2 separate regions of the Homo sapiens genome follow, and region 2 is linked to region 1. The links come from fine-mapping of genetic effects on gene expression. Tissue or cell type: whole blood. Region 1 holds a variant in brackets; the other region holds the start of a gene. All regions are shown on one strand. Distances are from middle to middle. Region 1 has its middle 22 kb from the start of ITGB1BP2. Region 2 holds the start of ITGB1BP2 (integrin subunit beta 1 binding protein 2).

What was found. PIP is the estimated chance that this variant, and not a neighbour inherited with it, causes the effect. A credible set is the group of variants that fine-mapping cannot tell apart.
Region 2: ITGB1BP2 starts here. The variant in region 1 is the best candidate, but not a certain one, in a credible set for the expression of ITGB1BP2 in whole blood (TOPMed, PIP 0.62).

The regions. Positions count from the first base shown.
Region 1 is chrX:71,320,892-71,326,265 of GRCh38, forward strand. No RefSeq gene overlaps it. Among named protein-coding and RNA genes, the nearest start is that of ITGB1BP2, 22 kb to the left of the region's middle. The variant C/T (reference allele first, on the strand shown) is at 3,109.
Region 2 is chrX:71,299,425-71,304,798 of GRCh38, forward strand. It overlaps ITGB1BP2 (integrin subunit beta 1 binding protein 2), which reads left to right and starts at 2,326. Exons shown (of 11, transcript NM_012278.4): 1 at 2,326-2,446; 2 at 2,713-2,762; 3 at 2,853-2,909; 4 at 2,987-3,132; 5 at 3,838-3,932; 6 at 4,037-4,092; 7 at 4,203-4,273; 8 at 4,388-4,487; 9 at 4,763-4,876; 10 at 5,118-5,180. The coding sequence starts at 2,383. NONO (non-POU domain containing octamer binding) reads left to right here. Exons shown (of 12, transcript NM_007363.5): 12 at 518-1,744. The coding sequence ends at 652. RefSeq lists an enhancer at 4,124-5,323.

The DNA of each region.
Region 1 (5,374 bases):
GCTCTGTCATCCAGGCTGGAGTGCAGTGGCGTGACCATGGCTCACCACAGCCTCAACCTCCTGGGCTCAAGTGATCCTCCCATCTCAGCCTCTTGGGTACCTGGTACTACAGGCATGCACCACCATGCCCAACTAATTTTTAAATTTTTTGTAGAGACAAGGTCTTACTATGTTGTCCACGCTGGTCTCAAACTCCTAGACTCAAGCGATTCTCCCATCTTAGCCTCCCAAAGTGCTGGGATTACAGGCTAGAGCCACTCCACCTGGCCTCCAAATCCTACTTATCTGTTGTAAAATTTATTTTTGTAATTTTTTTTTGAGATAGGATCTTCCTCTGTTGCCCAAGCTGGAGGGTAATGGTAGGATCATGGCTCACTGCAACCTCGACCTCCTGGACTCAAGTGATCCTCTCAGCTCAGCCTCCCAAGTAGCTGGGACCACAGGCTTGTGCCACCAGGCCTGGCTAATTTTTAATTTTTTTTTTTTTTTTTTTTGAGGCGGAATCTTGCTCTGTCACCCAGGCTGGAGTGCAGTGGCACGATCTCAGCTCACTGGAAGCTCTGCCTCCCGGGTTCAAGCAATTCTCCTGCCTCAGCCTCCCCAGTAGCTGGGACTACAGGCGCCCGCCACCACGCCCGACTAATTTTTTTGTATTTTTAGTAGAGACAGAGTTTCACCATGTTAGCCAGGATGTCTCAATCTCCTGACCTCGCGATCCACCTGCCTGGGCCTCCAAAAGTGCTGGGATTACAGATGTGAGCCACCACGCCCGGCCTAATTTTTAATTTTTATAGAGACGTGGTCTTGCCATGTTGTCCAGGCTTATCTTGAACTCCTGAGCTCAAGTGATCCTCCCACCTTGGCTTCCCAAAGTGCTGGAATTACAGGTTTGAGCCACCACACCCGCCCAATCCTACTTATCTTTAACAGGCAGTGCAAATTCCTTCTTTTCCATATTTTTGCTTATAGAGTCATAAAATATCTCTGGAAAGATAAATAAGAGATAAATAACATTTATTGCTTTCCCAGGAATGGAACTGGATGTCTAGAGGATTGAGCTGGGAGGGAGAAAGATACTGATTTGTTGCAGGAGGGATAGTTAATGTAATGAAACTGTCTAATATGAAGTTTTTAGAAGTAGAAGGAGGGAGACTGGAATTTGTAGTTTGAAGAGAAAGAGGAAGGTCTGGAACAGCCTCTGTGGGAGAGTGCCAGGGAATGTATGAGACAAATAAAAGGGTTGCTGAGCAGCTGCAAGGGCCAAGTTGAAATTGGACAGCATGAATTTATATTTGTCTACTTCGTTCTCCCTCTAGCAGTTTCTGGGACTTTGGGAGCAGAAAGGAAGAAAGAGGATAATGGAGGCAGAGGTCTCAGAGACAGTAACATTGGAGTGGCAGTTCATGGAGTGTAGGAGAGAAAACTACTACAACTGGGAGATAATTACTTCATCTGGATGAATTGAGAGGTGGATTACCTAGGCATCTCAGTGAGGTTAGAGAGCAGGTGATCAGAGATGCAAAAGTTATTTGGGGCCCAGTGTGGTGGTTCACACCTATAATCCCAGCACTTTGGGAGGCTGAAGCAGGCAGATCACCTGAGGTCAGGAGTTCAAAAACAGCCTGGCCAACATGGCAAAACCTCGTCTCTACTAAAAATACAAAAATTAGCCAGACGTGGTGGCATGCACCTGTGGTTCCAGCTACTCGGGAGGCTGAGGCAGGAGAATCACTTGAACCCAGGACGTGGAGGTTGCAGTGAGCCACGATCATTGCACCACTGCACTCCAGCCTGGGCAACAGAGTGAGACTCCGTCTCAATAAATAAATAAATAAATAAAAGTTATTTGGAAAAGGCTTATATCAATGTAAGATATCTCGGGATAGCCTGGGAGTCTCGCTCTGTCTCCCAGGCAGGATTGTGGTAGCATGACATCAGCTCACTGCAGTCTCTACTCCCGGGCTCAAGCAATTCTCCTGCCTCAGCCTCCCGAATAGCTGGAACTACAGGCATGTGCCACCATGACTGGCTAATTTTTGTATTTTTTAGTAGAGATGGGGTTTCCCCATGTTGGCCAGGCTGGTCTTGAACTCCTGACCTCAGGTGATCCACCTACCTCAGTCTCCCAAAGTGCTGGGATTACAGGCGTGAGCCACCACGCCTGGCCTATTACTATTTTTTTTAATAGATGAGGAAACAATCCCTGGGATGTTATATGATTTTCCTTAGGTCACACAGCTGGCAAGTGTCAGAGCAGGGACTTAAATCCAGGTCTGACTACAAAACCCATATTCTTTTTTTTTTTTTTTACTGCATGTCATGAAATTCAAAGCCTATATTCTTTGATGTCCAGCAATACTTTTTCAGCAAACACTCCCCTCTATTAAATGAATCTTATTTTGCCAGTGACATCTGTTGTAAAATTATAAATGCATTCTCACCAAAGAAACTATACAGAGTTAAAAGCTTTCAGTGACCAAGGGGTTAACTGGGTAGGGTGAGAGAGAAGCTTGGAGGCACTGAAATGAGTTGAAGGTAATTGCAGTGGTCCAAGGGAGAAAGATGAGACTCCAGATTAACGGTATGGTAGGAAAAATGGAACAGGGGGTAATGGATTTAAGAGATAGTTCCAAAGGTAGGAGTGAAAGTAATGTGGCCATGCTGGTCTTCTGTATTCCCTGAACGTATACAGCTCACTCCTTCCTCAGTTCGTCTGCACTATCTGATACTCCTGCCTGGAATTCTCTCTCTCTCTCTTTTTTTGTTTTTTTGACAGGTTCGCGCTCTGTTACCCTGGCTGGAGTGCAGTGGTGATCTTAGCTCACTGTAGCCTCCACCTCCCGGACACAGGTGATCCTCCCACCTCAGCCTCCCAAGTAGCTGAGACCACAGATGCACGCCACCATGCCCAGCTAATTTTTTTGTAGAGACATGGTTTCGCCATGTTGGCCAAGCTGGTCTTGGAACTCCTGGGCTCAAGCAATTTGCCTACCTCAGCCTCTCAGTGTTGGGATTACAGTCGTGAGCCACTGCGCCCAGCTGGAATTCTCTATTTTTTTTTTTGAGATGGAGTTTTGCTCTTGTTGCCCAGGCTAGAGTGCAATGGTG[C/T]GATCTTGGCTCACTGCAACCTCCACCTCCTGGGTTCAAGCTACTCTCCTGTCTCAGCCTCCTGAGTAGCTGGGATTACAGGCAAGCACCACCATGCCCGACTAATTTTGTATTTTTAGTAGAAACAGAGTTTCTCCATGTTGGTCAGGCTGGTCTCGAAATCTTGATCTCAGGTGATCTGCCCGCCTCGGCCTCCCAAAGTGCTGGGATTATAGGCATGAGCCACCGTGCCCGGCCTTCCAGCTGGAATTCTCTTACTCCAGATCTTTTTTTTTTGAGAAGGAGTTTTGCTCTGTCCCCCAGGCTGGAGTGCAGTGGTACAATCCCAGCTCACTGCAACCTCCACCTCCCTGGTTCAAGTGATTCTCCTGCCTCATCCTCCCAAGTAGCTGGGATTACAGGTGCCTGCCACCACACCCAGCTAATTTTTGTATTTTTAGTAGAGACAGGGTTTCACCATATTGTCCAGGCAGGTCTCGAGCGCCTAACCTCAAATGATCCACCCACCTCAGGCTCCCAAGGTGCTAGAATTACAGGCGATTACAGGCGTGAGCCACTGCGCCTGTTTTTTTTTTTTTTTTTTTTGAGACAGGGTCTCACTGTGTTGCCCCGGCTGGAGTGCTGTGGTGTGATCACAGCTCACTGCAGTCTCAAACTGCCAGGTTCAAGCGATCCTCCCGCCTCAGCTCTCCAAGCAGCTGAGACTATAGGCATGCACCACCATGCCCAGCTAATTTTTGTATTTTTTGTAGAGACAGAGTTTCGCCACATTGCCCAGGCTGGTCTCAAACTCCTGAGCTCAAGCGATCTGCCCACCTCCCAAAGTGCTAGGATTACAGGCACGAGCCACCACCCCTGGCCTCTTCCTCCAGATATTTGAATAGCTGGCTCTTCATTCAGGTCTTAGCTCAAACATCATCTCTCATGATGGGAACTGATTAATTATCTTGAAAACTGGTCAATGAAGGGGAAAAAAAATCAAACATTTATCCTGCCTTTCCTAGGTGAACTGGGTAACAAAATAGTAGATGAGAGGACATGTTGTTACACAACTATTCCAATGAATAAAAAGAAAAATAATAGAATATAACAATTTTTAATTCTCAACAAATAGATATAGGTAGTGAGCATTAACAACTTTTTGTTTTGTTTTGTTTTGTTTTGTTTTGTTTTGAGATGGATTATCGCTCTGTCGCCCAGGCTGGAGTTCAGTGGTGCGATCTCAGCTCACTGCAACCTCCGCCTCCCGGGTTCAAGCAATTCTGCCTCAGCCTCCCAAGTACCTGGGACTACAGGCATGTGCCACCATGCCTGGCTAATTTTTGTATTTTTAGTAGAGATGGGGTTTCACCATGTTGGCCAGGCTGGTGTTGAACTCCTGACCTCAAGTGATCTGCCCACCTTGGCCTCCCAAAGTGCTGGGATTACAGGCATGAGCCACCATGCCCAGCCTAAAATGATTTTTTTTTTTTTGAGATGGAGTTTCGCTCTTGTTGTCCAGGCTGGAGTGCAGTGGCCTGATCTTGGCTCACTGCAACCTCTGCCTCCTGGGTTCAAGTGATTCTCCTGCCTCAACCTCCTGAGTAGCTGGGATTACAGGCGCCCGCCACCATGCCCAGCTAATTTTTTGTATTTTTAGTAGAGATGGGGTTTCACCATGTTGGCCAGGCTGGTCTTGAACTCTTGACTTCAGGTGATCCACCTACCTCGGCCTCCCAAAGTGCTGGGATTACAGACGTGAGCCACCGCCTCTGGCCATTATTTTTTAAAATTAAAAAAAAAAAAAAGGCCAGGTGTGGTAGCACACACCTGTAATTTCAACACTTTATGAGGCTGAGGCAGGAGGATCCCTTGAGTCCAGGAGTTTGAGACCAGCCTGAGGAACATGGCAAAAACTTGTCTCTACAAAAAAATACAAAAATTAGCCAGGTATGATAGTGTGCACCTGTAGTCCCAGCTACTCAGGGGGCTGAGGCAGGAGGATCACTTGAGCCCAGGGCATGGAAGCTGTAGGGAGCCAAGATGGCACCACTGCACTACAGTCTGGGCAACAGAGTGAGAACCTGTCTGTAAATAAATAGGGCTGGGCGTGATGGCTCACGCCTGTAATCCCAGCACTTTGGGAGGCCAAGGTGGGCAGATCACCTGAGGTTGGAATTTCGAGACCAGCCTGACCAACATGGAGAAACCCCGTCTCTACTAAAAATACAAAATGAGCCAGGCATGGTGGTGCATGCCTGTAATCCCAGCTACTCAGGAGGCTGAG
Region 2 (5,374 bases), 21 kb before region 1:
ATGCCACCGTCTGACTGGCCAGTCTGATTGACTATGTTTGTTGGAGGGAAGTCAATGAAGGCTAGGCATTATCACATAAAATAGTTGTGAATCCAAATACTTCATGGCTCATGCAATCCTGGGGTTGTTTTGGTTATGGTGTTAAAATGCCAAAACTGGATAGTTTGGTTGTTTCTGTTTTTGTTTTTCTTTTTTTCTTTTTCTTTTTGAGACAGAGTTTTGCTCTTGTCGCCCAGGCTGGAGTGCAGTGGTGCAATCTTGGCTCCCTGCAACCTCCGCCTCCCAGGTTCAAGCGATTCTCCTGCCTCAGCCTCCTGAGTAGCTGGGATTACAGGCATGCGCCACCACTTTTGGGGTTATCCACTAGAGTTCTAAACAGACTTAGTCACCCACTCCTACCTACCATCAGGAGCCTTGAATAGTTGAATGGAAATAGCCTCCAGTGGAGGGACTACAGATGGGTGGGAAGCTTCCAACAATGGCTCTGTTACAGTGTTGCTCTCTTTTTCTCTTTAAGACCCCACCAACAACTGAACGCTTTGGTCAGGCTGCTACAATGGAAGGAATTGGGGCAATTGGTGGAACTCCTCCTGCATTCAACCGTGCAGCTCCTGGAGCTGAATTTGCCCCAAACAAACGTCGCCGATACTAATAAGTTGCAGTGTCTAGTTTCTCAAAACCCTTAAAAGAAGGACCCTTTTTGGACTAGCCAGAATTCTACCCTGGAAAAGTGTTAGGGATTCCTTCCAATAGTTAGATCTACCCTGCCTGTACTACTCTAGGGAGTATGCTGGAGGCAGAGGGCAAGGGAGGGGTGGTATTAAACAAGTCAATTCTGTGTGGTATATTGTTTAATCAGTTCTGTGTGGTGCATTCCTGAAGTCTCTAATGTGACTGTTGAGGGCCTGGGGAAACCATGGCAAAGTGGATCCAGTTAGAGCCCATTAATCTTGATCATTCCGGTTTTTTTTTTTTTTGTCCATCTTGTTTCATTTGCTTGCCCCGCCCCCGAGACGGAGTCTTACTCTGTCGCCCAGGCTGGAGTGTAGTGGCATGATCTCGGCTCACTGCAATCTCTGCCTCCCGGGTTCAAGCTTGTCCAGGTTGATCTTGAACTCCTGACCTCGTGATCTACCCACCTCGGCCTCCCAAAATGCTGGGATTACAGGGGTGAGCCACCGTGCCCAACCTCACTTGCTTCTTATCCTTACACTCCCCCAGCCCCAGAGAAACTGCCACATACACCACAAAAACCAAACATCCCCCAATGACCTTAGCCCCATTGCTCCATTCACTCCCAGGTGAGAATTCAGGCAAACGTCCACAAAGGTCACAGGCAGCGTACATACGGTTCTGTTATACCCCATATATTACCCCTTCATGTCCTAAAGAAGACATTTTCTCTTAGAGATTTTCATTTTAGTGTATCTTTAAAAAAAAATCTTGTGTTAACTTGCCTCCATCTTTTTCTTGGGTGAGGACACCCAGGAATGACCCTTTTGTGTCTATGATGTTGCTGTTCACAGCTTTTCTTGATAGGCCTAGTACAATCTTGGGAACAGGGTTACTGTATACTGAAGGTCTGACAGTAGCTCTTAGACTCGCCTATCTTAGGTAGTCATGCTGTGCATTTTTTTTTTCATTGGTGTACTGTGTTTGATTTGTCTCATATATTTGGAGTTTTTCTGAAAAATGGAGCAGTAATGCAGCATCAACCTATTAAAATACATTTTAAGCCTTTTAATTTTCTGTGGTGTTTTTGAAGGGGAAAGGAGGGAGGGGAGTTATCTTAGGAGATGAGCAGTAGACTCTATAAAGGTAATCCTTTATGACCTTTGGATTACAGTATTGATCTAGACAAACATGGGGAGGAGGTGGGGATGAGGTGCATCAAATGGCTGGAGGGGTTGGCAAGGATTAGCGCTATTGATACTACATGGAAGTAATGATGGAGGAAAGCTGCCCCTCTGAAAGAGGAAGAAAATGGGCTTAATCCTCATCGAGCTGGGGGCGCGGGGGGGGTCTCAAAATTGGTATTTGTTTCTTAGCAGCTGCTGCTGTGTCCAAGGCTTGGAATTGCTGTGGTGAATCTAAAACTGTCTCAGTAGTGGTGAGCTGACCTCACCCAAGTTCAAAGCCCTACTCTGCCTGATCCTTTTTTCCTGAGCCTCAGAGCTAAAATGCCCCCGAGCTCTTTCCTATTGGCTGGAAAGACGAATTGAAGTTCCCTTGCCCATGTTAGGAGGTGTACGCCTCCTGAACTAAAGATAGAAACAGCTGGCCCTTCCAGGCAGCTAAAAGCCTCCAGACTAAGAGGTGTTCCCCATTCGGCAGCCAGACTCCTTGAAATACCCTTTCAGTAATCATTCAACCAACGCTTCCATGTCTCTACTCTGTCGTAACAAAGGCTGTGGGCAGCACTTTGACCCTAATACCAACCTTCCTGGTGAGTAAAGAATCCTGACCTGGCCAGGGGCTCTGTGTGGGTGTTGGGGACTGGTCAGCTGGGGGGCAGTGTGTTTGAGGAGCGGGGAAAGAAACTACCTGCCCTAGTTTAATTGGTCTGAGTGATCTTACAGCCTTTGCTGGCTTTTTTTTTTTTCTTCACATTATATGGGAAGAAACCATAAATAGAAACCCGGGGAAGAGGTGAAAAATGATACTTGGTATAGTTATCTTCCCTTCCTTGATAACTTCTACTGATGTCCACAGATTCCTGTTGCCATCACCCTGGGGTCCCAATCTTCCATGATGCACTTAAGGTGAGGAGTAGGTGAGGGGGGTTAGCAAGAGCATTTCCCAGAAGAGATAATACCCAGGAAGCTAAGCTGATCTGGGTCTCTTGTTATCAGGGTTGGTCCTGCTGCCGAAAGCGAACTGTAGATTTCTCTGAGTTCTTAAACATCAAGGTAAATTATTTATGTACTTGGATTCTGCCCCCAATAGAAGGATTCTATCCCTAATCCTATCTCCTTATCTATACTAGGGCTGTACTATGGGACCACACTGTGCTGAGAAGCTTCCTGAGGCCCCTCAACCTGAAGGCCCTGCTACAAGCAGTTCACTTCAGGAGCAAAAACCTCTGAATGTGATTCCAAAGTCAGCAGAGACCTTGCGCCGGGAGAGGCCCAAGTAAAGAGGAGGAGGCCCCTGGACTTTTCTTATTTTCATGTAGCTTCCTAGGAGTGATTAATGGGTCATTGAGGACTGGGAACTAGGGACCAGGGATGTGAGGAGGGCCAGATGTCAGGGTTTGGATGGTGTATATCCTGTGCCTTAGGGGAAATTTGTGTCTGGAAATAACGCCCTTTCCTCTAAGGTGGTGTGGGATGATGGGATAGATACCTGAATCAACAGAGTAGATAGCCCCTCACAAATACATCCTTAGTGTATAACACAAAAGGGATTGTTGAGAATGACTTCTCTTTCTAGAAAAGAACTTTAAGATAAATCTCATATCAAGAAAAGGATGTATTGTATTATTGGCAGCCAGGAGACTTCCCAAATTTTGTGGGAATAATAAGAGCAACAGAAGGAAGTCATATTAGGTCCACGATTAGATAAAGAGGAAGAGGATATGACTCAGTTCTGCAGAGAAAAGTGGTTAGGTTTAGAGCAACTGAGTAGATGGGTAAGAGAAGTGCTGGGGATTTCTCTAGGGTTCAGGTATTTGGGATGTCCACAGAGATGAAAATTGGCAATGGGGTTGCTACCCAACCTCTCCAACTCTGCCTCACTTTCACCAGGCTTCTTTAATTCCATTACCATCGGTGGGAGTGTTGGAGCTAGCAATCATAGCTAATGGGTCAGAACTAAATCACCACCCTTAACCCCTAGGTCAGAGTTGCCTCTGAAGCTGCTGCCGCTAAATATATCCCAAGCCCTGGAAATGGCATTGGAACAGAAGGAATTAGACCAGGAACCTGGGGCAGGTAGGTGGGTCTTTAGTAGGATCAACTTCATAGACTGGAATTTAGTGGAAGTGGCAATTGAGTGGGGGGATGGATAAGTTCCTGACTCTGTTTCCCTTGCCCAGGACTTGACAGTCTGATCCGGACTGGTTCCAGCTGCCAGAACCCAGGATGTGATGCTGTGAGTGAGAGTTTTGAGGGGCTCAAGCATATGGCTGAGGGATGACTGGGTATAGATAGGCTGAGTAGGATATACCTTAGAATGACCTGGTTCTACTTTATCCTTCTTAGGTTTACCAAGGCCCTGAGAGTGATGCTACTCCATGTACCTACCACCCAGGAGCACCCCGATTCCATGAGGGGTGAGGGAGGGGACTGGGTGGGCTATGAGGCTATGAGACAGGTTTCTCCTAATATTTGGTCATAAGATAATATTGGGGGTGAGAGAATTCAGTTGAATTATCTTCCTACTTCAGGATGAAGTCTTGGAGCTGTTGTGGCATCCAGACCCTGGATTTTGGGGCATTCTTGGCACAACCAGGGTGCAGAGTCGGTAGACATGACTGGGGGAAGCAGGTAAGCCCCAGCTTTCCTGAACTCTTGATTAGAACCCAATCTCAGAGGTAAATTCTCCTCCCTCTCTGTACCACATAGCCAAGCTCCCTGTCTTCTCCCTTTAGTATAGACCAAATAAGATTCTGCTCCTTATCCCTCAACAGCCCAGAGGTTTTGCAATATGAGGTTGTGTTAATCTTTTTGAGACTCTCTGTCTCTTCTCCACGTGCATCATGAGAACTCCCCTTCAGTTAAGAATTTATTCTTACCACCTGCATTTCACATCTTCTCTTTAGCTCCCAGCATCTTGCCGCCATGATTGGCACCAGACAGATTCCTTAGTAGTGGTGACTGTATATGGCCAGATTCCACTTCCTGCGTTTAACTGGGTGAAGGCCAGTCAAACTGAGGTGAGCAATGATCTGATGTTGGATGGGAGGATAGTCAATTGGGTGATACTACAATCTCACAGGCAGAGTTGCCATTTGCTGTTAACCTGTAGGCTCCATAGTACCCTTAGAGGAAAGGAGAGTTATTAGGTCAGGGCTGTCTGGCCAACCTGTGGATCATACCTCTGACCTGGTTATCTGTCGTAATGACCTATTCTGACCTTCTGGGTTTGTTACTACCCCTGTAATTCTTTTCTCTCAGCTTCATGTCCACATTGTCTTTGATGGTAACCGTGTGTTCCAAGCACAGATGAAGCTCTGGGGGGTAAGTGAAGACCAGGGGACACAAGAGTGGGAGGCAGATGGGTGAAAGAGCGGCTAGACTGGAATAGAGGGTGTCTTGAGGGAAGGAGTTGTACTAGGAAAATGGAGGTTTTCTCTTCATTTGCTTTCATTTTCTCTCTCTCTCCTACTCTTCCTATTTCCCTCTTTCCCTCCCCTCTTCCTTCTCCCTTTTCA